Homo sapiens: one gene and its partners. The protein of the gene in region 3 interacts with the protein of the main gene of each other region in a biochemical or structural test. Each region holds a gene or a part of one and is shown on either strand. Other genes may lie near its edges. The genes, in order: DNAJC5, SDC2, PRKCG and RIGI.

The links.
Region 1: of the proteins of PRKCG (region 3) and DNAJC5, one has a biochemical effect on the other in vitro, tested with the Homo sapiens proteins (one study listed by BioGRID).
Region 2: of the proteins of PRKCG (region 3) and SDC2, one has a biochemical effect on the other in vitro, tested with the Homo sapiens proteins (one study listed by BioGRID).
Region 4: of the proteins of PRKCG (region 3) and RIGI, one has a biochemical effect on the other in vitro, tested with the Homo sapiens proteins (one study listed by BioGRID).

The regions. Positions count from the first base shown.
Region 1 is NC_000020.11:63,933,101-63,936,519, forward strand, and holds the end of DNAJC5 (dnaJ homolog subfamily C member 5), read left to right. Parts: 3' UTR 1-2,911; downstream 2,912-3,419. UniProt on the Homo sapiens protein: Acts as a general chaperone in regulated exocytosis. Acts as a co-chaperone for the SNARE protein SNAP-25. Involved in the calcium-mediated control of a late stage of exocytosis. May have an important role in presynaptic function.
Region 2 is NC_000008.11:96,489,143-96,496,829, reverse strand, and holds the start of SDC2 (syndecan-2 precursor), read right to left. Parts: upstream 3,018-7,687; 5' UTR 2,559-3,017; coding exon 2,499-2,558; intron 1-2,498. UniProt on the Homo sapiens protein: Cell surface proteoglycan which regulates dendritic arbor morphogenesis.
Region 3 is NC_000019.10:53,877,360-53,885,198, reverse strand, and holds the start of PRKCG (protein kinase C gamma type), read right to left. Parts: upstream 3,003-7,839; 5' UTR 2,705-3,002; coding exon 2,535-2,704; intron 2,037-2,534; coding exon 2,005-2,036; intron 1,039-2,004; coding exon 956-1,038; intron 1-955. UniProt on the Homo sapiens protein: Calcium-activated, phospholipid- and diacylglycerol (DAG)-dependent serine/threonine-protein kinase that plays diverse roles in neuronal cells and eye tissues, such as regulation of the neuronal receptors GRIA4/GLUR4 and GRIN1/NMDAR1, modulation of receptors and neuronal functions related to sensitivity to opiates, pain and alcohol, mediation of synaptic function and cell survival after ischemia, and inhibition of gap junction activity after oxidative stress.
Region 4 is NC_000009.12:32,516,197-32,523,229, forward strand, and holds part of RIGI (antiviral innate immune response receptor RIG-I), read right to left. Parts: intron 1-7,033.

The DNA of each region.
Region 1 (3,419 bases), on a different chromosome or scaffold from region 3:
GAGTTGCAGAGGTCCCTGTAGAGATAAAGCTGAGGAGGAGGCTGTGTGTGATGGCTCTGGCTCGGACCAACCAGATGAGCCTCCTGAAGCCCCCTTCCCTGCCTGCCTGCTGACCCGTGGCCCCAGCTCACTCATTGCCCTCAGCAGCCACCCGAGGCTGTGCAGAAGGGTAGGTTCAGGTTGACCAGGAAGCTGCCAAAAGGGACATGGATATGAGGATACATCTGGACGTGCTTAGGAACAGGGTGCTGGTTGAGGGCCCCCAGCTGACCCCTACTGCAGATCCGCATGTGGACCATGAGCCGGCTGCCAGCACTAGGTCCTGGGCAGCTTTGTTTGTCCCACTTTTCTTTGTTTCTTCTCACTAAAATGATCACGAAGACCTTTGACAAGAGGAGAGATATGCACTGTGATATTAAATTAGAAATAATTTATCAAAATCAGACCTCTCCTAAAAGAATAAGAAATTCATTGTTTGGCCCATCCTGAAAGGTGAGGTGGCGAGACAGTGGGGTGCCTCCGTGCCGCTTCGTGCAGCAGCAAGTTCAGCCTGAGATGCTGGCTGTACTCAGCCTTTGCAATTTTTGTAGATGTAGCTTAGGACGTGAGTTATTTTTCCGCAGACTGGCCAAGAGCCAGGTTCTAAGCTTGGACCTAAGGTAGAAAGCTGCCCATCGGGGGCCCTAGCTCAGCCCCACCAGGCCCTCTGTTGGGCCTGCACACAGCTCTGTGGCTAGAACACTCCAAGGCCCTTCGGTACCCATCAGAGTGGGCCCCTTGCCAGGTGGCTTTTCAGTTACAGAGTCCAGTGGACCATTTTGTAGAACCATGCAGCTCCCTGCGGAAGGTGGGGTAGGGTGGGAAAGAGGAGCAGGTCTGGAGGTTTGTGGAACCCAGTCCCCTGCAGAATCTGTAAAACCTAATAAATCATGGTTGTGGCCATTCTCACGGTGGTGATTGTGATTAGACGACCCCCGGGAAGCCCAGACACTCGGGGCCTGGAGTTCCTCCCCCTGCCTGACCTAGAAGCAGAACCGTTTTCAGCGCTCTGCCCTGTTGGCTTTAAGGCTTTGTCTTAATTTAAGGAAAAAGATCCTCCCGGGTTTTATTTCTCTCTTTCTTGAGTGGACTGTTTCCCTATAATTAAAAGAGGTGGTGAGTCCTGGGGCAGCTTCCGCGCCTCCCTGTCCACGTGCTAACAGATCAGGACGCCCCCAGCACCCCTGCCTGCTTTTGCTGGTGGCAGTGACGGGACCCCGACTCCTCACTCTCGGGCCGCAGACAATGCTGTGAGCAAGTGTGGCCATGGGCACAGAATGTCCCTTTGGACGCCGCTGCTGGGGGCTGCCAGGGGCCCTCTGGGGTCGTGCTTTGAGGCCCGTCCGGTTCACGAGGGGGTCCGGGCAGCACTGACTGCTTCCGACCTGCAGGAGGCGTAGGAGCGGCCCTGCGGGCCCTTTCACGGCAGCTGCTGCTGTATAGATTTGTCTCCACTCAGTGACGTGGGATTTTTTTGTCTTCCTTTTGGCTTTATTTTTAAACTGCTTTAGATATTACTGCTCAGTGTTTGTGAACTTTCCTAGTTCTCTATGTTGTTAGTGCAGCCAGCACCCAGTGGGGACCTACTAGAAAAAGGAACTGGCATGCACACGTGCCCAGCAGGAAAAGCTTCGTCTTCACGTCGGCTGCTGCCATCCAGAAGAGGCCCTGGAGCCTCACGCCGTCGAGGCTGCTCTCAGGCGTTCTGTTCCGGGCGAGGCTTGTGCTGCAAGGAAGGGCACCAGCATGCAGGCTGCCACTGGAGGGTCCGGGTGCTGCGGGCAGAGTTCAGCGCTTGTCCACCCTCCCTTAGCTCTGACTCAGTGCATCCTACTGTGGGGACATCTCGTGAGGGGACACGAAATGACTGATCTCACCCTTTCCCAGTATTCAGAGCTGTGAACCCCTGTGGCGCAGGACTGGCCTGTGTCTGTTATTTTGGTTGTAAATCATTCTCCTGTGGAATTGGCAAAAGCTACATTTTTACTGTCCTTACCAGCAACAGTTTGCGTCGTCACATGCTGTGAGTGTGGGCTGTGGTGTGTCCGTGTGTGTACATATGTGTATATGTATATATCACGCAGCAGGAGTGTCATTCATGCTGCTGTCCCCTGGTGAAGTGACAAGTACAATTAAAGGTGGCTCTGAAATGGCCTCTGGTTTCTTGGGAGTCGGGCAGGGACCTGCAGGAGGCTTTCCCAGCAGGTGCACAGAAGGAAGCGCTGAGCCCACTGTGTGCAGAGGGTGTGTGCCCAGGGCACTGCCACGGCCCCCACCAGCATTGGCCTCTGCTCTGCAGGGTGGGGTGCCCATCCTGGGGGCTGTGTGTCATGCTCACCTGACCCAGGTGTGTGTCCCGGTGTGAAATCGAGGAGGGGACTGGAAGCCCTTCCCTGCCTTGAAACATGAAAGCTGATTTTCTGAGCAGCAGATACGGTCAGTGGCAAAGCTGCATCTGAAGGGCGGCCTGGGAAGGGGCCCTGTGCTGGCCCCGGGTCCGCCCCAGAGGAGTCCACACAGCACCACCTCCAGAAGGGGCTGGGCCCGGGGTCCTGCAGGCGGCACCTTTTGGTAGAGTTTGTTTCCCTGGAAAATGGGGAAAATGTTTCAAGCCAGGTGAGGGGGGAAGTTAACACTGAAATATGTATTGTTTTTAAAAATCAAATGCACACGCATGGAAGCTGCTTGTCCATGCACTGGTTTTGTCACTGGCGTCCTGGAATCCGACCGTGTTGGGGTGCAGGCGCTGTCAGACTCCGGCTGATCCTGGCTCGAGCACACACATCTAAGGGCCAGGCTGGTTCCGCATGGTGATCTCCGTCTTGTATGTCTGAATGTTGGCCTAAAATAAAGATTACTGTTGTAAAATAAATGTTTTCACTGCGGACCCCACGTATGTCTTACTCGCTAGTCCCGCAGATCCCTGGTTTTGGAGAGCAGCAGCTGATCTCAGCCCTCCACACCCCTTGCGGCTGGAACCTTGCTTCCCTCCTGCCTGGTCCAGATGTGGATAAATGCCCCCTCCTCTTGATTGTGTTTTCACCTCCGTTTTCTAAATACCAAGACTGGAGCAAAGAGGCCAAGCGTGGTGGCTCATGCCTATAATCCCAGCACTTTGGGAGGCCAGTGTGGGAGGATTGCTTTGAGCCCAGGAGTTCAAGACCAACCTGGGCAACAGTGAGATCGTGTCTCTACAAAAAAGAGTTTAAAATTATCTGGGTGTAGCCGTGCCTGAGGTCCCAGCTCGTCAGGAGGGAAATCACTTGAGCATGGGAAGTCCACGCTACAGTGAGCTGTGGTCACACCACCGAACTCCAGCCTGGGTGACAGAGGGAGATCCTGTCAACAAACTAACAAAAACTCAGAATAACGTAACAAAC
Region 2 (7,687 bases), on a different chromosome or scaffold from region 3:
CCAGTTCCTTTTCATAGGCAGTTTTGAGCCTTAGTTCCTGAGAACCTCTTTTTTACCCCCAGAGCTAAGTATAAAACTTAAGAATTCACTAACTGTAGGCAGTTTTCCTTTCTTCCTTTAAAGGGAGACTTTAAACCCAAATCACTACTTCTAAATCCCAGGAAACAGTTGCAGTTTTCAAATTAAAATGCAAAGTCCTGGAAATAATATTCTGTAATTGCTAATTTTTTTTTAAATTCAGTCTTTTGACTTCATTTATATTTTTGCTGCTATACATGAAACAAACGGAGACTGAAAAGTAATTTAAATGGACTGTTAGCCATTCTGGGCCTTGAAACAGCTTCTATTTAGAAAGACTGACTCACTGCCTAACAAAGATTCTCTGCTAGTCTCTAAGTTGACATTTTATAAATATCTAATCACCCTTTTTGGATGATTTTCCAATTACTGAAAACAGTGTCTATCACAATGAAGCAGTTCACTCGGAAAGCATCCAGTTCTGGTTCAAATTGAGAAATATTAGAACCCCAAAGATACACAGTTCAGGGGAAAGCTGTCACCGGGGAGGACAGGTATATAGTTCGGCCAAAAAACTTCCTTAAGGAGCACTGGTAGATTTATGCAAAAACCCAGAGGAGCAGAAGACAGAAACATTCTTTCTCCAGAATCCCAAAACAGTAACATTTCCTAGCAAATCCATGAATAAGACTCAGCAAAAAAAAAGGGCCTCCTTAACCATGTGCAGTTTTTTAGGCAGGCTCTTGAAATTTATTAGATGAAGTCCCTTTGCCCTGTTTTGCAACAAGAGGAGCAACAACGCTCATCTGAAATAAACAAGAGAACTGCTGCCTTTTGGTGTACAAAGAGCCAAAGTTCATCCTAACTGGCTGGGAGATAACTAATACCAACGGATTAAACCATCATTTGCCAAAGGGAAACACTGATAAGGCTGGGAGTTCTATTTTACAACCTGAGCACCCAAAATACTCATGTAGTCTGTACAGTTTCCAATTCTACATGCTCTCCAACCACAAAGAACGTATGGGGATCTGCTAGCACACACAGAGGCTCCCACACTGATTAAAAATGTCCATCTGCCGCTCGATGCCAAAGAGGTTTCCCAGTCCTAAATTAGCCTCAGCACAAAAAAGGGGGGGAGGGAGACTCAAACTCATAAAACTACCTAAAAGACCTTAAGATGATATAATTTGTCTTTGAAAAGACCATTCAATTAATTAGAAATTGACACGTTATTAAATGGCAAAGGGAGAGGACGTGGGGAACCAGAAGGGCCAGAAACAGCCGCACTCCCTGAGACCCCAGAGGGCACTGAGGCTGCAGACGAAATCTGGGGTGCTCAAGCTTCCACCTGGCCCGACAGAGCTCCTGGCGCCCAGGTGGAGGCAGCTGCGGACGAGAGGAGGCCAAGGAGGCAGTTCCCTTTAGAGGGCGCTCATTGGGCGACGTGGGGAAACAAGCTCCAGCCCCCGAAGCGCGACCAAAAGGAGAAATCAAGTTCCCACCGCCAGGGCGGGGGAGGGAAGCTGGGTGCCGGCAGGCGCTCCGCCGGAGACGAGACTCCTCCCGGCCCCAGAAGCGCCCCGCCAGGGCCAGAGAGGGCGAGCGTGGCGGGAGGGAAGCCTCTGTCCCCCAGCGGCCAGGCGACCCGAAGCCGAGCGCCGTGTCACACGTACCCCGCCTCGCCCTGCTTGCGGCACTCCCGTGTAACTCCTATGAAAATGTCCTCCCGTCCCTGACGCCCCGCGGTGCAACCTCCACCCCTCAACGAGGAGGGGGTCGCCGCAGGACTGGGAATCCAGTGGCCGGCGTCCCAGCATTTTCGGACGCGTTCCGTGCCTCCCCCAGTATCCCCTTGAGGGATCGCCTACTGCGATTCCACGTAGTGTCGGTTACCTCGCCCTAGCCGCAGGGAGCATCAAACAAAAGAACTTTTGCAAACTTTTCTCTCTGGACACTCGCGGGTCTCTTAAATCTGGCCCCCATCTCCCCAGAACTTGCATGCAGTCAAACAGGAAAGCTGGCGCGGGGGGGATGGTGTGCGGAGGAAGGGACCCCGAAGTTTCCAGGTCATCCCTGGTCTCGAGGAGCGCGCGGAGTGGAGCCGTTCCCTCGCGGGCCCGACCCAGGCTCCCCCCTCCTGCCACCCTTTCCCCTCCGTCCTTCCCAGACCACGCAGCAAGACCCGCCGAGGGCGAAGAAGTTGGGAGTGACTTCAGGGGCCTCTGCGGCTAGACCAAACCGCAATTCTCGGTGCCCCCATTCCCGCGGACCGCGGGGTAACGCCAGCGAGCAGCGCTTTTCTGAGGAAGGGAAGAGGGGGAAAGGGTGACCGGACGAGCGCATTTGTCCCAGCGGATCTCCGGTGTATACTTGGGGACTGGGGGTTCCCCAGGTGGCGCTCCCCTATTCCCTGCGGGCTCCTCTCGTAGCTTCAAACACCCTAAACGGCGCGCGCATCCTCCGCCTGGCCCACTCACCGACTCCGCCGACACGCAGGCCACCAAGCCCAAGGTGAGCAGGATCCACGCGCGCCGCATATTCCCCAGGGACCGGCTGCTCCCAGCCGCTGCTTGCAACCAGGGCAAAACGAAGCCTCCTGCCCAGCGCTCGGCGCAGCCCGCGCACACGAATCCGGAGCAGAGTACCGCAGCGATTGCGGCTCAGGCTCGGGGACTCGGGCTCGGGGCTCGGGGGCGCTCGCTTCCTCCTCCTGCGCCTGCTCCCGCCGCCCGCAGCTGCGCCCCGGGAACGCGGCGCCCTCTCACTTGTTGGTTTCTGCACTCCCGACACGGAGTTGGTGCTCCGGGAAGGCTGCTCTCTGAAGCTCTTCTTGCTCTGCTGTGGTTTTGCTCCTCCGCGGACTCCTTTCCCGTGCCGAGGTTCAGTTTCTGGTTTTAAGGAATAAATTCGCTGGCTTGAAAGGGAGCTACGGCAGAAGTTTAGGGGCAGAGCGGCGGGAGCGCGCGATCCGCGCGGCTGGAGCTCCGGGGGTATCTGGAGAGCAGCGCGTCCAAGCGGGGCCACTGGCTCCGCGGCTGCGCCCCTCCTCCTCCCGCGCCGCGCCTCCCTCCCCGGGTCCTCCTCCTTCTCCTCCTCTTCTTTTCCTCTGGCTCCCTCCCTCCTGAGCCTGCTTCTCCGGGCTCCCCTGGGCGACTGGGGAGAGGAGGCGGCAGTGTGACTCCCAGATAAACCCGGGAGAAATTCCTACAGGATTACACGCCGATTGGCAGCTCCGAGGACCAGTGGGCGCCGCGGCTCCGCGCTGTGGCTGCGCCGGCTCTGCTCACCGGCAAGCCAGGGCTCCTGCGTTTTCTCAGTCCTTTTCTTCCTTTCTCTCCCCACTTTTCCTCTCTCCTCTATGCTCTTTTCTTCCCCGTTGTCTTTTCTCTTTCCCTTCTTCACTTTCCCTTTTCTAGAGAACAATTAGTGAAGAAACGAGAGACGTATGTAGCTTTTCTGCCTTGAGAATTCGACCAGTAGAAAGAAACTGCTTTGTGAGTTGAGGGAAAAAAAAAGTGTAAGATGCTTTCAAGCAATGTGAAGTGTTCATAAATCGCCAGTTCATGAAAATTGCATTTTAAAAGAGAAGATAATTAATGTAATAAATATATAGTGAGAGTGTTTCCCATTCTCCCAAATCCTTCCGCACCCCCAAAAAAGGGACATGGAGGAAGGATCCTGTAAACCCAAAGTGCAACAGTTTGAAAGCTCCTAACTTCATTAAGGGCTTAAATACCATTTCTCCCTCACACACAGTTTATGCCACTAAGGCTTTTTATAGGCTCCATTTTAGCAGATAGGTGTTAACGTTTGGAAGCTACAAATAGGGTAATTTGATGAGAAGTTGGATAGAGACCCTGAATAATAACAGATTTAAGATAACTTCAAAGAAAAGAGGGATAAAGTAATTCTTAGTTTGAAGAAAATAATGAACATGTATTTCCTAAATGGAAGTAGCTGACATGAAATATTTTGTTACAATGTCTGTGGCATATTATAGAACATGGCAAATGCGTATTCCCTTCCAGTTTCTTTTTCTTACTGTCACAAATTTTACACACAAATCCCTTGCAGTTCGTGCCATCATTTTTCTCTCTGACTTATAGAGTAAATGAATTATGACGCCATTCTGCTCCTGGAATGCCCACTACAGGAAACCAGAGACTTTTCTGTCTGTTCACCATTGTATTCTCATTCCTGGTACATAAAGACACATGATAAATATTATCTTGAATAAATTTTGCTCTAAAGCTCAATTTATACCGTATAAGAGTTGTGAGCCTTTAAAATACACCAATGTAGATATATAGATATGAGGCCATGGTAATTTTTCAACTCAGTATTAGAATAAAATACAGTCATACCCTCAGTGAGAATTAAATGTCTTAGTAACCTATTACTGTAATAAATCTCAAAGAAAGAAATTTAACTGGAGAATTACAACTCAAACTTGGAGACACTTATTCCTTTGGTTTTGTGTGCCAGCTACCAAACCTACAAATGCTCATGAGCAAGTCTAAGGCATTGGCCAACAAAAAGGTAATATGGAGAAATAGAAGAGTAGGCAAAGGAGAAAGAAGAAAAAGAGCAATAGGCCAGAAGTTGTAACATCAGATGATGCTTCTGATTCCACAGACACTGTAGCTGGCATCTGTGCCAATGTGGGCTCCACTTAGCTTTTGAAAGAATGAACCACAGCCTTTTTTTTTTTTTTTTTTTTTTTTGAGACAGGGTCTCATTCTTGCCCAGGCTGGAGTGCAGTGGCCTGCACTGTAGCCTCTACCTCTCAGGCTCAAGCAGTCCTCCCACCTCAGCTTACCAAGTAGCTGGGACTACAGGCACAGGCCACCACACCAGCTAATTTTTGTGTTTTTTATAGAGACAGGGTTTTCCATTGTTGCCCAGGCTGGTCTCAAACTCTTGGGCTCAAGTGATCTGCCTGCCTCAGCCTCCCAAAGTCCTGGGATTAGACACGTGAGCCACCAGCCTAGTGCCCTTATTTTTAAGATGGAGTCTGTGGGTTGAAGAGGTTCATGAGATGGGGAGACTTCTTAAAAAGGCCTCCAAAGGAAAAGCAGCAATGCAAAATACATGCAAAGAGCCATAAAATACCAGCTCTGTCCTCATAAGAGGCCTCGTCTACTCGCCAGCCTTCAGGCAAGGCCACACCTCCATTGTCCCCAACAGTTAAGTATTCATCAAATAAATTGGAATTCCAGTAAAACAGGAAGTGCACTCCACTGATTTGCTGGTTCTCACAGTTATTGCTGTTTACTGGGGCACCCATGTAACAAGAAGCGTGGTGAATGCTCTCTGATTCAGCTTGGGCAGACAGTGATAAAAAATGAATAAGTGGATACACGTGTTGAAGGGATATTATCTGTTTGCTGCCCTGAAGGCACACCCCAAGGCTCTTGGTGTTGATGAGATGCTCAGTGACTTGTTTCTTTAAAGATGATAAATACTCCATTGAGAGTATATATAATAAGGGAATTGGTACCATTTTGAGTGACACAATATTAAGGAGATGAAAACAAATATTCAAGATCTTGTGTTCAGATTTATTAACAGCTGTGGCAAGAAGGATAATCTGACAGTATAAAAAGCACTTACACAAGAGCTGGCTACAAAGAGGTCACCCATGCTGAGTGGGGATGGGGACAGAAGTCAGGGGAGGTCCGCTGGTATTAGTCAGGATTTGTCTAAATTCGCAAACGATGTAGGCCTGTTTGTGTGTTTTGCTAATTGGAAATGTTTAAAAAACTGATGGGGACTAAAATTTGGCAGAATTTTGTGTAGTATATCTAATTCACTAAGTATAGCTTGTGACTAGAACCAAAGGTTCTTTGCAAATATACTTCAAGTCCTCAGGTTTTGAGGGCTATGCTTTGAGGGGCACAGCTTAACCAATCACTTCCCAAATAGCTTCATTGATTGCTAAAAGAATAATTACCACACTTCAAGAGTCTCAGGAGAAAATATTAAAAATAAACAACATAGAGATTAAGATGCAAACATGTAAAAACAAATAAAAAATAAAGAGAACCAGACAAGTGAAAAAATAGAAATGAAAGCTACTAAAGACAGTTTTTAACCTAAACTGACACATCGGACTCTGTCACTACGGTAACAAATGATACCACATTACAACCGTGGATAAACAGGTGTTCTGTCCTGAGGTGAGTTGTCAGAGTAGGGGATAGCGGAAAAAAAAGATGCCATTCTGTTGTTCTCGGTTGTTCTTCCACTTGGCACCCCCTGGACTGTTACCAGGAGTCCAGGCTAGAAATCAATTTGGTAGGATTGGCTCTTATGAAATTCACTTGAAAGATGATAGAAGCTGAGAGGAATAGGATATCCATCCAGCCAACCATTAATGAGCCATCGCTAATACTGGCAAGTGAGCTGAGGCCATGACCAAAATCTACAGGCAATCCAAAAAAATCTATTTTCAGGCCTGGCGCGGTGGCTCACACCTGTAATCCTAGCACTTTGGGAGGCCGAGGCAGGCAGATTGCCTGAGCTCAGAAGTTCAAGACCAGCCTGGGCAACACGGTGAAACCCCGTCTTTACTAAGAACAACACAACAAAAATTAGCCAGGTGTGATGGCGGGCACCTGTAGTCGCAGCTACTTGGGAGGCTGAGGCAGGAGAATTGCTTGAACCCGGGAGGTAGAAGTTGCAGTGAGCCGAGATCATGCCACCGTACTCCAGCCTGGGCAACAGAGCGAGACTCTGTCTCCAAAAAAAAAAAAAAAAAGTCTATTTTCAGCCTCAAACTTTCCACTGTTCTCTTTATTCACCTCCATCAACCCCTTCCCAGAGAAGTTGGCTGATTTGAGTTTCATAAAATGATATGGTGCTAATGTTGAACAAAATTGTTACAGTTTTGGATAGGAGGACACAGGAAAATCAAGGAAGTGTATAATACATAAAATAAGACAGGAGATAAAACAGTTACTTCTGTTTTTCTTTTTCTTTTTTTTCTTTTTTTCTTTTTTTAGAGACGAGGGCTCACTATATTGCCCAGGCTGGCATCGAACTCCTAGACTCAAGTGATCCTCCCCCTTGGCCTCCGAAGGGTCTGAGATTACAGGTGTGAGCCATCACACTTGGCCCTTCATGTCAGTTTTTCTAACAGTGTGGTATGGTTCTTTAAAGGCTGGCAAAATTTGACATTCAGTCAACAAATATGTATGGATCACCTGCTGCAACTCAGGTACTCACTGGGTAGGCACATGAATTTTCTTGAACCTTGTTAGAGTTAATACATTTTTAAACTAAGAGTTGTTCTCAAGTCATGAATCTGTGACTAAAGTACATGATGAATTTCATTCTAAAATCAGATAAAGTTTAAAGAAAACATTATTTATGGACTAAAATACATATCCAAAGAGCCATATTTGAATGTTATAGATTTGGATGTATGAATCCAGGAAGGTACCACAGAGGTATCTTCAAGTTATTTTGCATTGCATTTGTATATATCCAGTTGAACAGGAAAGTCTAACCTTGATTAATTTTATGTAAAATGGTACTATTTTTTAAATTGACAAATAAAAATTGTATATATTTATGGTGTACAGCATGCTCTTTAAAAATATGTAGCCAGGTGCAGCAGTGGCACACACACCTGTAGTCCCAGCTACTCGGGTGGCTGAGGTAA
Region 3 (7,839 bases):
AAATGGAATTTCTAATCCTCAGCCACAGTCGCCCTGTTTCAAGTGCTCACTGGCTACATGGAGCTGGTGGCTGCCTATTGGACAGTGCATGTACAGAATGCTTCCGTCACTGTAAACAGTTCTGTTGGTCAATGCTAGATCATCAGCCCCATTTTATAGAGGAGGAAACTGAGGCTCAGAGATAAAGCAGAAAAGGGAACGGGAATGGGCACTCAGGGTTGACTGGTCTTGTGAGCCTCTGATGGAGAGAGAGGGGGTGGGGAGAGGCTGTGTGTCTCTGCGTGCTGCACATCTGTGATGACAGGGGCATCTGTACATGCACGCACATGTGTGCAAGTGTACTGTGGGACTTCCCTGGGTCTCCTCTCAGCATCTCCTAAGCTGTTGTCTGTATCCACCATTTTCTATTTTAGTCTCTTTCTCCAGGTGTCTGTGTCTCCGTCTCTTGGAGTTTCTCTGTCCATCTTTTGGTGCCTCCAAATTCCTCTCTTTCTCCCTGGTTCTTTCTCTGCTCCATCTCTCTCTCTCTCTGCCTCAGCTTCAGTCTCTCCTAGGTCTCTGTCTTCTTCTGTCTCTGTTCCTCTCCCTGAGATTCCCTCTGTCTTATGTTGGCATCTCCGCACCTGCACTGATATTTTTCTCCGTGTGCCCCTCAGCTCTCAATTTTTAAATCCCTTCACCCCTGGATCACAGCCCACCCCCGGCAGCACCCATCTTCAGTCTCCTCACCCCGGCCTCCTCTCTGTGCCCCACCCGTGTCCCCAGCCTGTCAGTCCCCCTCGCATTCCCCCTTTCCAGGCCAAGGGCAAGGAATCTGGGCCAGATAGCTCCCCCTATCTCTCCAGCCCCCCTCCCCTCCCAGCCATAAAAATAGCAGGAGAAATTGGGACGGACGCCGAGGGGGTGAGGGCGGGGGCACGGCCCGAGGAGGAGAACCAGGTGTCCGAGCACTCACGTCCGTCTGGGGGCCCTTCCCAGCGCCTGGACACTCGAAGGTCACAAATTCGTGGCATCGTCGATGAACCACAAAGCTGCAGACTATAGATGAAAATCATAGAGACACAGACGGAGGCATGGATTAGTCCAGCGGGAGACCCCAGCAGACAGAAAATTGGAAAGAGAGAGCGGAACTCGGACACTGAGAAAACCAGAAAGAGAGGGATCTCAACACAGAGAGTCCAACAGAGAGAAAATCGGAGGCCAGAGAGAGAAGCAGGAGACAGAAACCCAAGAGATGGGCTCAGAGTCAGAAACAGAGACGCAGAGACTTACAGAGAGACACAGAGCACAGAGCTCAGGGAAGGGAGATGGAAAAAGAGAGAAAGAAAATAGGATCCCATTGACAAACAGACACAGGCCCACGGACGGAGATCAGAAAGCCAGGAGAGAGGCAGACAGATTCAAAGAGCGAAAACCGAAATATCTTCAGACGCAGCCCAGGAAGCAGCAACTTGGGCAGAAGTGAGTCTGGGGGCGCTGCTGCCGGCCCGCCCCCCACCCTGACTCACTCTGTTCTCAGCAGTAGCAGCTGGTGCTCAAGGACTCGCCCCCCTCTCCCGCCCCCCAGAACTGCCGGCCCCGCCCGGCCCCCACTCGCCCATTGGTGACCCCACCCGGCCTGCCCCTGCCTAGGACGGCTGGTGTTGTCATGGCGACGGCAGCCTGGGGTGGGGGGGGGCTCTGACTTTGCATCTCCAGCCCCCTCCCCCTTCCCCCCTTCAGCTCCCCTTTTCCAAATCTCCATGTTCCCATGGCAACAGATTCTCCAAATATCTGTCCCCACCTGGAGCCGGCCGAGGGAGGGGCCCCCAGCACCACCTCCGCGGTGGCCCCACCATCAAAGCTCCCTCCCCACCACAGGCTGTGTCTCTGCCACACCCCCCGCCCCGGGCTCCCCCGCGCCTCTCTGGGGACCAGAGAACACGTGTGTCAAGCAGCCTCAGCTGTGGGGCCCCAGCCTCCACCCTCCTGAGGGTCCCAGGAGCCCCGGTCCCCAGCTCTTACCTTGACATTGCAGGCCCTGCTTTCCGATACCCCTGGAAGAGTCAGGGATCCTAGGTCAGTGCAGAAAGGGGTACCTGGACCCCCAACCTCTGCGAGCCACAGGGGGCCTGCGCTCTCTGACCCTCCTCCCGCAGGGCCCAGGTGTCCAAGCCCCGGCCACCTCCTCTTTCTAGAACCCAGAAATTTTGGCCCCCAGCCCTTCTTCCCTTAGACTGGAGTTCAGCCCCCAGTTTCTTCCTCCTTCAGACCCAGGAATCCAGGCTCCCAGCCCCCCAGGCCCTTCCTCCCTCAGACCCAAGACTCCAGGACCTCTGTCCTCCAGCCTCCTCCTCCCTCGGACCCAGCACTCCAGGAACCAGCCTCCTCCTCACTGAAACCCAGGAGTCGAAGCTCCCAGCGTTCCCTGGCCATCCTAGAACCTGGGAGTCGGGACTACAGCCCCCTCCTTCTTCCTTCCACAGGGGTCGGCGTGATAGGAGTCTGCACCCCTAGTCCCCTCGTCCCCCAGTCCCCCAGCCCCCTTCCCTCACCAGATGAAGTCGGTGCAGTGGCTGCAGAAGGTGGGCTGCTTGAAGAAGCGAGCGGTGAACTTGTGGCTCTTGACTTCGTGGACCACCTTCTGCCTCAGGGCCCCCTTTCTGCAAAACAGGGGCCGGGGTCCCCCCTCTGAATCGCCTACGCCGGGGCCCAGACCAGCCATGGCCCCAGAAACGTAGCAGGGACCAGGATCCTGCCTTTCTTGGGGGAAACAGGTGGAAGGGAGAGGAGCTGGAGACTCGAAGGATCAAAGGAGCCACAGGGAAATTCCGAGGTGGGCAGGAGAGGGGCAAGGCACCTCCAGGTGCGGAGCGCGCCAGGCAGGGAGCGGCACCCCGGGCGCGCCGGCTCCGCCAGGGGGAGCGGGCGAGTGGGGAGGAAGAGCCAAAGGCAGGGGCGCCGGCAGCCGGAGGCACGGGCGGCGGCGGTGGGAGCTCCAGCTCCGGCACCTGCTGAAATGTGGGAGCCCCGGGTTGGGGGAGGCGTTGCCAGGACGACCGAGAGGGCGGGGTTTCGGCTTAAAGGCGCTCCCCTCCCGGAGACACGGGACAAATGTCCTCCCTCCCCGCCCCCCACACGTGCACACACCCACTCCGGGGGCTGGCTGGAGGGAGGGGCATCCTCTGAGCCTGGCTCCCCCCCACCACCCTGCAATCTGTCATCCTGCCCCGCGTTCCTCCCCCACTAGGGTGCCTCGTGTGTCCTGTGGGCGCCCTGGGGTCCCTGTGTCTGACCCTGCCCCTCTCCTTCCTTCAACAAACTTTATGCTCCACGCTAGGGGTCCAGCAGTGGACAGGCAGGGCGCTAAGGTTCTCACTTTCTCCGATGCCGGCTGAGTCTTTATTTCCTCCCCTGGCCTCTCCATTATTTGTGTAGCTCTCTGCCTGCGTGTGTCTTTCTTGTGACCTCTGTCCCTCTCCCTCTATTCCTGGAGCGAGCTTTCTCGATGTGTCTCTGTTTCTGCCTCTCAGTGGATCTGTTTTCTTTTCCCTGTCTCCGAGAAATGCTGTTTCTATTTCTTTCTATTTCTCTATTTCCTCTGCTGTGTGTCTCCATCTGTATCTGTCGCCATCTCTGGGTCTTGGTGTCGTGGTTCTTCTCGGGGTCTTGGTCTGCCTCACTGTGAATCAGTCTCCCTCTGTCTCTCCCTCTACGTCTGATAAATTCTTCCGCCTCTGTCTCCCTGAGTTTGTTTCTTTCCCTGTCTTTGTCTCTCTGGCTCTGTGAATCTCTATTCTCTCTCAGGCTGTGACTCTGTCTCCCCCTCCCTCTGCAACTTGATCTCTTTGGGAGTCCGTCTCTGTCTTCCTCTCTGGGAGTCACTCTCTAAATGCTTGCCCCTGTCTCTCCCTCTCTCTCCTCACCTCCACCCGTCTTTATAAATGCCTTTGTCTCTGTCTCTCTCCCTTCCTCCGGTTCTGCAACTCCGTCTCTGTTTTTGTTTGTCTCTTCCTATATCTCTCTGGTTCCATCTGTTTCTCTGTACTTGTCCCTCTCTGGCTCTGTTGATCTCTCTCTCTCTCTCTGATGCTAGGGGGGTCTCTCTCCTGTCTATGACTCAGTCTCTCTCTCCCTCTTCTCTTCTCTGTCTCTGTCCCTTTCTCTCTGACCCAATCTCTCTCCCTCTTCTCTTCTCTGTCTCTGTCTCTGTCCCTTTCTCTCTGACCCAATCTCTATTTGTCTCTCTGGCTCTATGAATCTCTTTCTGTTTCTGGGGATCTCCCCGTCCCTCTGTGTCTGTGATTCACTCTCCCTGTGTCTCTGGCTCTCTGAATCTATTCATCTCTCTGACTCTCTGAATCTGTGTCTCTGGCTCTATGAATGTCTATGTCTCTCTGACTCTGAATCTGTGTCTCCGGCTCTATGAATGTCTCTCTATGTCTCTCTGACTCCCTGAATCTGTGTCTCTGGCTCTATAAATCTATGTCTCTCTGACTCTGAATCTCTCTGTGTCTCCGGCTCTATGAATGTCTCTCTATGTCTCTCTGACTCTGAATCTCTCTGTGTCTCTGGCTCTATGAATCTCTATGTTTCTCTGACTCTGAATCTCTCTGTGTCTCTGGCTCTATGAATGTCTTTCTATGTCTCTCTGACTCTCTGAATCTCTGTGTCTCTGGCTCTATGAATCTCTATGTCTCTATGAATCTCTGTGTCTCTGGCTCTATGAATCTCTTTCTATGTCTCTCTGACTCTCCGAATCCCTCTGTGTCTCTGGCTCTATGAATCTCTCTGTTTGTCTCTTTGGCTCTGTGAATCTCTGTGATTCAGGCTCTCTGAATCTCTCTATATGTCTATGAATCTCTCTGTGTCTCTGGCTCTATGAATGTCTCTCTATGTCTCTCTGACTCTCTGAATCTCTGTGTCTCTGGCTCTATGAATCTTTCTATGTCTCTCTGACTCTCCGAATCTGTGTCTCTGGCTCTATGAATCTCTCTGTTTGTCTCGTTGGCTCTGTGAATCTCTGTGATTCAGGCTCTCTGAATCTCTCTATATGTCTCTATGAATCTCTCTGTGTCTCTGGCTCTCTGAATCTCTGTCTCTGGCTCTAGGAATCTCTGTCGAGGGTCTCTAGATAGAGACTTCCCTCTCTGTGTCTCTGTGATTCAGTCTCTCTCCCTCTTCCCTTTTCTGTGTCTCTCTCTCTGTCCCCTTCTCTGACCCACTCCATGTGTCTATCTGGCCCTGTGAGTCTCTCTCCATCTCTGAGGTCTCTCCCTCTCTCCCTGTGTCTCTGTGATTCAGTCTCTCTCCCTCCTGTCTTTTCTATGTCTCTGTCCTCTGTCCTCTTCTCTGACCCACTCTACGTGTCTCTCTGGCCCTGTGAATCTCTCTGTCTTTGAGGTCTCTCCCTCCCTCTAAGTGTCTCTGTGATTCAATCCCTGTCTCCCTCTCTCTAGATCTCGCTGGCTTCGGCATCCTCTCTGTGCGCCCCCTCTCAGGAAAGGGGTCTCTCCAAGGGCCGGCGCGGTCAGTCTCTTCCGGCCTCCACACCTCTTGGTCGCTCTACCCGCGTCCCCGCCTCTCTCTGGTCGGGCTCTGCGCCTCCCCGGCTCGGGAGCGCTTCCCAGTCCCCGCTCCCGGGAGACCCTCTCTGTTGCCAGGGGCAACCACGGCCCGCCCCGGGCTGCGGGCGCAGTGCATTCTGGGACTGGTAGTCCGAGCCTGCGGACCAGCCACTCTCGGGACACGACCGAGAACTCCGCCTCCCGGCGTGCCCCGCGAGGCTGGGCGGGACGCTGCGGCGGCGCCTGGGAGGGACTCTGGACGCCCAGCTTACCTTCTCTGGGACTTTTCAGGGGTTCGGGGCGGGTTTCCTGGGATTCCCAAAGCCGAAGGGAAGGTGGGGGAATCCGAGTCCTCTTGTAACCACTCTCCCTAAATGTGGAGTCCACTGGCCTTCCAGCCACCTCCAGGTGACCTAGGGCGAAGGATAGGCGGCGGGGATGGCCCCGAAACCGACCTAGGAATCCCACCACGTTCTAGTCCAGTGTCCTTGAGTTCTTTCCCGAGTTAACCAACGTATCACCCCAGAGTTCTATAGCTGTTCTTTCGGATGCCTTCCAGAAGGGATTCAGGCATGGGATGGGAGAGAAGGGTGGGCGAGGCGTCCTTTAAGAAGACAGCGATGGAGTGGGTTGGAGCTCAAGAGTGGACGCTGCAGAAATGAAAAGGAGGCCTTTCCTCATCCAACGACAGTGTGTGCCCCAGCTGGCCTTTCCTTCTCCCCTTCCAGGGGAACCCTTCCCTCCCTTGCGGTATCTCTCCCCAATTGCTTTTGCGGATGTAGATGCAGATAGCGGGTTCTGTGATCATCGAATTTTCTTTAAAACTTTTTTTTAAATAGAGACGAGGTCTTGCTGTGTTGCCCAGGCTGGTCTTGAACTCCTGGGCTTAAGCGATCCTCCCGCCTTGTCCTCCCAGTGTTGGGACTACAGGCGTGAGCCTCCGCGCCGGCTGATCATGGAATATATATATATATATATATATATATATATATATATATATATTTTTTTTTTTTTTTTTTTTTTTTTTTTTTCAGACGGAGTCCCGCTCTGTCTCCCAGGCTGGAGTGCAGTGTGGCGCGATCTCGGCTCACTACAACCTCCGCCTCCCAGGTTCAAGCGATTCTCCTGCCTCAGCCTCATGAGTAGCTGGAACTACAGGTGCCCTCCACCACGCCCGGCTAATTTTTGTATTTTTAGTAAAGACGGGGTTTCACCATGTTGGCCAGGATGGTCTCGATCTCCTAACCTCGTGATCCACCCGCCTCAGCCTCCCAAAGTGCTGGGATTACAGACGTGAGCCACCCGCCGGGCCTGATCTGGGAATTTTGTAGGGCTTATATTTATTTGTGTATTTGTGATTCTCCTGAGGTCCGGGAAATATGTAGGCGGAGGATTACCTAGGTGCCCAGGCAAGAGACTGAAGGCACAAACTGTTTCAGTATAATAAACAAAATAGTTAGAATAAGAATAGTCATAATACAAATTAGATGTAGAGATGATCATGGACAATTATCAATCATTATTATAAACATTATTAATCATTAGCTTTTAATATTACTCTTTGCTGCATTACTAATGTAAGCTAGGAATAACCGGCAGGTATAGGGTCAGGTGCTGAAGGGACATGGTGAGAAGTGACCTAGAAGGCAAGAGGTGAGCCCTCTGTCACGCGCACATCAGGGCCGCTTGAGGGGTCCTTGGTCAAGTGGTAACGCCAGTGTCTGGGAAGGCACCCGTTACTTAGCAGACCACGAAAGGGAGTCTCCTTTCCTTGGAGGAGTCAGGGAACACTCTGCTCCACCAGCTTCTTGTGGAAGGCTGGATATTATCCAGGCCTGCCCGCAGTCATCCCGAGGCCTAAACCCCTCCCTGTGGTGCTGTGCTTCAATGCTTACACTCCTCCTTCACTTTCATTCTCCTCCCATACTCCTGGTTCCTCTTTGAAGTTCATAGTAGATAGCGGTAGAAGAAATAGTGAAAGTCTTAAAGTCTTTGATCTTAGAAGTGCATAGAAGAAAACACTGACGTATGCTGCCTTCTGTCTCTGCTTCGGCTACCTAAGAGGGAAGGGCACCCTGTCCCGTGATCACGTGACTTGCTTCACCTTGTCAATCACTTCGAAGATTCACCCTCTTTACTCTGCCCCCTTGTCTTGTATGCAATAAATATCAGCGAGCCCAGCCGTTATGGGCCACTACCGGTCTCTGCGTCTTGATGATAGTGGTCCCCTGGGCCCAGCTGCTTTCTCTTTATTTTTGTCTTGTGCCTTTATTTATTACAATCTCTCATCTCT
Region 4 (7,033 bases), on a different chromosome or scaffold from region 3:
TGCTTCCTGAGTTCCTGTTTTCCCACACAGTTACATTTCTTCCCTGCTATATAAACCCCTAATTTTAGTGGGTCAGGGAGATGGAGTTGAGACTAATCTCTCATCTTCTTGGCTACAGCTCCCAATTAAAGGCTTCTTCCCTGGCAATACTTGTTGTCTCCCTGTTTGGCTTTCTGTGTGGCTACCAGGAGGACCTAGGCCAAACCCCTGGTGCTTCAGTAACAGATTTTTGTGGCTGGGTTGCTGTGGTCTAGGAGTCTCAGAAGCCCTCCTAAGCAACTGCCCACCCAATTTTGGCTGGAAGTGAGTTTTGGTCTCTCTGGCCCTGCTGCTGCCAGCCCCAGCTGAGTTCCTGATTGCTAGGAAGAACAGCCTTTGAAATGTGACACTGGCATCTGGATAAGTGAGTGTCCTTTCTTGGCCCAGACAGCAAGATCTGCTCAATTTGAAAATTTTAAAAGGAGCTTCCATTTGCAGGTTAAACCAGCCCAACTGACTAAGAAAGGGAAGCACCCTGACTCTCAGTATGATACTCTAGAGAGCGTGTTTGTAATTTCTGTGTTTGTGTCTGGCCAAGTTAGTGTCTTTTTTGGGTACCAGACAGTGGGATCGGCTTCTCTCAATTTGGAAAATTCCTAAGAAATTTCTGTTTGCAGGTTAATAAAGCCCGATTGAGAGAGAAAAGCACCTCGACTGTTTCAGTTTGGACACTGTTCGGGCTTGTCTATTGCTTCAGCAGTCGGATTGTGTTTTGTTGATTGTATGTGTCAATATAGTAATGGGAAATTAGAATTCAACAAACAAATATTCTTTTGTACTACGTTTGCCCCAATATTCTTTGGAATCTGGAGTTGGCTGTTGAATGGGAAAGCCAGGTGGAGTCCCATGTATTCTGGCTTTTATGCCGCTGTTTTAAGCAGGGTTGGGCCTGGTGAGTAGTTTCCACATGACGTTCTTCTGTAGTGCTGTTTGGCCCCAGGTTTCTTTGGAATCTAGCTTCTAAAAATCAAACTGCCATGGAAACTGCTTTACCCAAAATTCTGGTTCACAGCCTTCATTGGATTACCGATTGGAGCAAACAAATTTTAGCCATGTGGACTTGGTTGTAGATTCGTGAGTTTGTATTGCTATCTCATGGCTAGAGTTCCAAGGTAAAAGCTGTTGGATCTTTGTGTGTGTATACATGTTTAGATGTGTTTATCTAGATGTACATTAACTATGTTATACACTATACCTACCAAATTGGCTTATAAATAAGAGTGCTCATAAATTAAGTCCAAAGTGTTTTTCAAGTTCACATGACTTCAGTAAATCTTTAATAAACAAGCTGTCTTTAAAATTATTGGTAAAATAAAAATAGAAATGTCTTCAGAATTGTCAGCATACATTTTTGTCTCGGCTTTATATTTGTCTCAGCTAGATAATTTGAGGTATCAGAGTTTGGCAGCAGGTTATAAAGCTATAAACCCAGTGAATATTTGTGTGAATTCTTTATAAGACTAATTTAATGCTGTTAGTTTAATGAAAACAGCTGAATCTTCTGAGTTATTGATCAAAATGCCCACGTATTAATTTTAAGGTTATTTAGGTGAACACCTGACATTCACAGGTTATAAAATGGTTAAGAAGGAAATGATGCAGAAATAATCTAGATAAACTGCTAAAAATAAATAAAATGTAAATGGTCAAATGCTGTAAATGAACTTTTGGCATAATCGGAAATATAATCATTGGATGTTTGAGTCATTTCCAATTAAGAAAAGGTTATGATGTGGGGAACATGTTTCTAAAAATTGTGGAATGGTTCTCATCTATAAAATACTAATATCTGCTAGGCAGCTCAAGATTTCTTGCTTCCTAGGTTTTTACTGAAATTTAAGGTTGTTACTAAGGATAAGAATTCTAGTTCATATGTAATTCTATATATAAAATGTGCAAAAGACAATGTGTTTTTATTCAGAAAAAAATTTTATCTAACTCAGAAGTTATCTAAAGTTTATTAATAATTATGGACTTGAAAGGTTACTTATGAAACAAGGTAGAAAAGAACAAGTAGACGAGAGAGATGTGGAGAAAGTTATGAGTATAAAGATGTATTTTTGGTAAGGAAGGTTATAAAGAAAATAATTTTGTATGACAAAGCATCTTATAATGGTATTTTTTTTGTCCTAAAGTAAAATGACTGTTTAAAAAAAAAAAAAGAAGAAGAAAAAGAACGAAAATCCAGGACAAATCAGAAAGTCTAAGCATATCATAGATGGTGTGTGTAAGTCATGTAGTTTCTTTCCTATTTCTTTGTGTGTCTACCTTTATGTACAGACAGAGAAAATACAAAGTATAAAAGGCTTAAATAATATTCTCTTAAAACCAGATAGAATATTGGAGAAATCTGGCTAATTAACACTGCTCATAGTTAAAGCTCTTAGTCTTGATGAAAGTAAAATAAGAAATATTGTAAAGAAACACATTGGCAGTTTGGCAATCCTTTCTTAATATAGTTAACCATGAAGCCAGATAAAAGCCAGATATAGCAACAACCAAATTTCACCTACATGCTTGCATTGCTTCACACTGTATTTGCTCTTCTGCATAGATATACTATCATTACAGTATAATACTTACTGGTCGGCCTCCTCCAGAGTAGCTGGGATTATAGTTGTGTGCCATCATGCCTGGCCAATTTTTGTATTTTTAGTAGAGATGGGGTTTTACCATGTTGGCCAGGCTGGTCTCAAACTCCTGGCCTCAAGTGATTCACCCATCTTGGCCTCCCAAAGTGCTGAGATTACAGGCCTGAGCCACCACGCCCAGCCTAAAGTGAATTTCTTAATTGCACAAAATATATAGTGGTATTGGTGAACTTAAAGACATTAAATTGTGCATCAGGAACAAAATATTCATCATGTGTTTTTTTGGCTCTGGGTAACACTATAGCCTCCAAGTTAAACTGAGTAGAAAATTTTCAGGTTGGTTTCCTGTTTGTTTTTTCTTTTAATTTGCATTTATTTGCTGTTTCTTCTTCTTTAGGTTTTACTTATATATACATATTAATAAAACCATTGATGGCTTTTAGTTTCTAATGTAAGGAAGGCTTTTATTTGGTTCCATGAATAATCATTTTGTTTCCTATGCATTTCCAGTATCTCATCATTTGCTCTACTTATCCAAAGTTCCTAAGCTACCTTTTTCAAGCTTCCAAAAATTGTTGGTGGACACCAGCCTTTAAAATTTGTTTGGTTTTGCTTACCTCTAATGAACTAGAGAGCTATAAGAACTTTAAGATTCCTGGCAAAAAATAATAAAAGGTTTATTCTTCTAAGTTCTGAACAGAAATAGTACATTATTATTGGTTATTTGGAAAAGTAGGTGAGAGAAATGTTTAAGTGGTGTTTATTTCCAAGGTAATTCAATTCAATAAACAATAGCGGTTTCAGATCTTTTCCTTTAATGAGGCAAAACTGCTATATGGGTACAAAGTCTTAATATTCAGAAAAAAATTGGCTTTGTCTTTAAGGAAATTATATTGATTGGGCTTTCTCTCAAACTAATTTAGTTGTGTTTACTATTATTAAGATTAAATAACATTTACTTGGATTAAGTCATAAAAAAAATTATAAGACTTTCTAGTGTTTTTTTTATCCTAAGCCATTTATCACTGATGGGCCTTCACATGTATACTTGAAAACAAAATATGTACATACAAGTGTTATGCCAGTTTGAAGATTCTAGTGGTGTAAGTCACTTAAATCAGTTGTCAGTACTTTATCTAGAAACCAATCTTGGAAATGTATGATGAGGCTCTTTCAAAATAGCTGAAAAGAAATTACTGTGTGCTTATTGTCACTTTGTCCTTGTTTTGTTGTATACTTTTTAAATGAAAGATTTATCTTCATATTGAATTTCCAAAACTGATACTTGCATTTACCATTTTTTTTTTTAATGATGGAAAGAAAAGTTAACTATCTTACTTTGGTAAGTTTGGCACAGGACTTACCACATTTTTGAGGCTCTAGGTCACAGTTTTGTCACTAGAATGCTAGCAGATAAATGCAAGGAGTAACCTAACCACTTTAATACAATGGATTGTATAATGGGTTGAAGTGTTTCAGACAGTAACTACTAGGCACCAAATCCCAGGGTTTTATTTTGTGACATATTAGAGAGAATGATGAGGTTTCCTGCAGTATAAATATGCTATTAAATAATTCTTAGGAAACAATTATTTAGTAATTCAAAGGCCTTTGACTCCTGGATCCAAAAAAGACACCAATACCTGCTAAATCTTGAGCACTGACACCAAATGAAGCCTCGTCTTCAGACTCAGGAGAAGGTGACAATCAAAATGAACTGCTTTCATGAGACATAGGGCTAGAAATTAAAACCATTCAATCCCTCTACGCCCAGGAACTATTGCACAAAAGGTGAGCACGTGAGCTTGTAAGGGCTGATTTTGAGTTATAAAATTAGTTCAGGGTTTTTCTATAAATTAAACATTAACATCAAAAGCACACTGATGCAAGGCCAATGTCTGGGCCCCTGTGTCATAACAGGGTTTTCTTGGAGCATTACTCTACTCTTTAATAGGAAATCGTAAAACGTTATAAAAAGATGGCTGGGTGTGGTGGCTCAGGCTGGGCGTGGTGGCTCAGGCCGGGGCTGGTGACTCAGGCCGGGTGTGGTGGCTCACGCCTGTAATCCCAGCACTTTGGGAGGCCGAGGCAGGCGGATCAGCTGAGGCCACGAGTTGGAGACCAGCCTGGCCAACATGGTGAAACCCCGTCTCTACTAAAAATACAAAAATTAGCCAAGTGTGGTGGCATGGCCTGTAATCCCAGCTACTAGGGAGGTTGAGGCAGGAGAATTGCTTGAACCCAGGAGGCAGAGGTTGCAGTGAGCCAAGATCGCACCACTGTAGCCTGGGCAACAGAGCCAGACACCATCTCAAAAAAAAAAAAAAAAAAAAAAACTTCACAGAAATCCTATCTTATAGTCAAACTGATTAAAATTCGGCTTATAAGGTTTTATTAAAATTAGCTTTAACATTAAAAATATACCATACAAAGGTAAAATTTGATGTTCTCTTTTGAATAAAATGTTTGTATAATATTGACATAAAATATTTGTTTACCTTTTGAGTGAACTGTGGGGGGAAGAAAAGGAAGAGGGAGAGACATTTAGTTGGCCTCATGCTGTCTTTATTAGGCCTTATTGTTGGGAAACTGAGTCGCCTATCAAAGGGTAAATGTGTTTGTTTTATCTTTTTGGCTAAATGAATAACTATTTTGTAGCGACCTGTGATCCTATTTTGTGATATCAAGTGTCTTAAATCTTTGATACTGACAGACTTCCCAACAGCAAATATTTCAAGTTCTAAATTCAGGGGGTTTTTTTTAACCTCAAACTAACTTTTTTGTGTATTAGCTTCCTTGAATTCCAATACAGACAGACATGTTAGGCTTCTTTGGTATATTAGAATTATACAGGCAGCATTATCAAATGTGAGGTGGTATTTAACTTCCTTTGGGTTATATTTGTATAGATGTGCTATTAATATGTGTTGCAGGACTATATGAGATTCCTAAAATTCTGATATGTCTTAATATATGGTGTCAGTAATGATGATTATTATGTTAAATTGTTGTATGCCAACAGAAAAAAAAATTTCCTTGTCAACTGTGTCTTTATGGCTCTCCTAAGACTTTTGTCATTGCAATTGTTGTTTTGCATTGATTCTTTTCAAAAAGTGACTTATAATCAGATATAGTCCAGAGCTTGTTTATTTAGGGGACTTCATGAAAAGGAGTCTTGAATGCAGATTTCTGATAACTTTGGAGACTGTGCCACTGGAATACAGAAAACTTCTAGGACTCTTAATTAGAGTCCCTCTTAATTAAAAGGCTGACATGTTTATAAAGATTACTAACCCAATATGAAACACAGCAGGAGTTGATTGCATGGACTGAACTAATGTGGGACTGAAATAATTTTTTATGGTTTTGTTTGAAAAAGTCTGGAGAATTTTTGTTTTTTGGAATCTGGAGAATTTTTTCTTTTAAGCTCTTCATAACCTTTAAGAATACAGTATATTAAGTAGAGTATACCCTTTTAAACAGAATTTGAGGCATTTTCTCTCTCCCTAATTTCTCCAGAATTTATAAACTATTTGTGAATATTCTTAGTTCATGGCAATGTGTTTTCTTGCATACATTTAATAAAAATCTGTTTTCTTTTATAAGGGGACACAGTTGGAGGAACAAGTTATTTTCCCAGGGCTTTGACTGAAATGGCCTTGTGAGAGGTTCCAGCAAAGCCAATTAGGAGAGCCCATATGGACAATAATTTTTGCTGCACTTTGTGTGGGTAAATAAGCCAAGTATATGTAACTGAGGCTTATTTTGCAGGTAGGCCCATCCAGCTGTGATATGTCTTTGGTGGAAGCGGGGAACAGTAATGATACAGATTGTGTCTCAGAAGAAAACTATAGTATTAGATTAACTTTTGATTCCTGGATGGCCACGTGGTCACCCATAGTATGGAACTGCCCACCACGCCATTCCTCAGCATGAAGCTGCCAGAAAGATTGAGGATCAGATTCCCCATGATCCAGGAATTGATAAATAGAAAGAGGGGGACTGAAACCAACACAATAGTCCCATATACAATTCTTTCGAATAAACATGGAAATTGACCCTCCTGATCTTAAAGCTGAAACTTATATTTGTTTTATCTGAGTTCCTTCCCCAGGAAAAGGACCCCCAGGCCTCTCAAAAGGTATAAAAGAACTGAAACTCATCAGACCATCACATCCAGACAATGAGACACCAGGCCCCTCATTTATCATGATTGCTTCCTTACCCCTCCAGAGTCCATTTTCCAACACCTAGTTATATTTCTTTCCTTCTATCCATACCCCTAATTTCAACGGGTCAGGGAGATGGATTTGAGACTGATCTCCTACCTCCTTTGCTGCAGCTCCCAATTAAAGCCTTGGCAAAACTTGTTGTCTCAGTGATTGGCTTTATGTGCAGCCAGC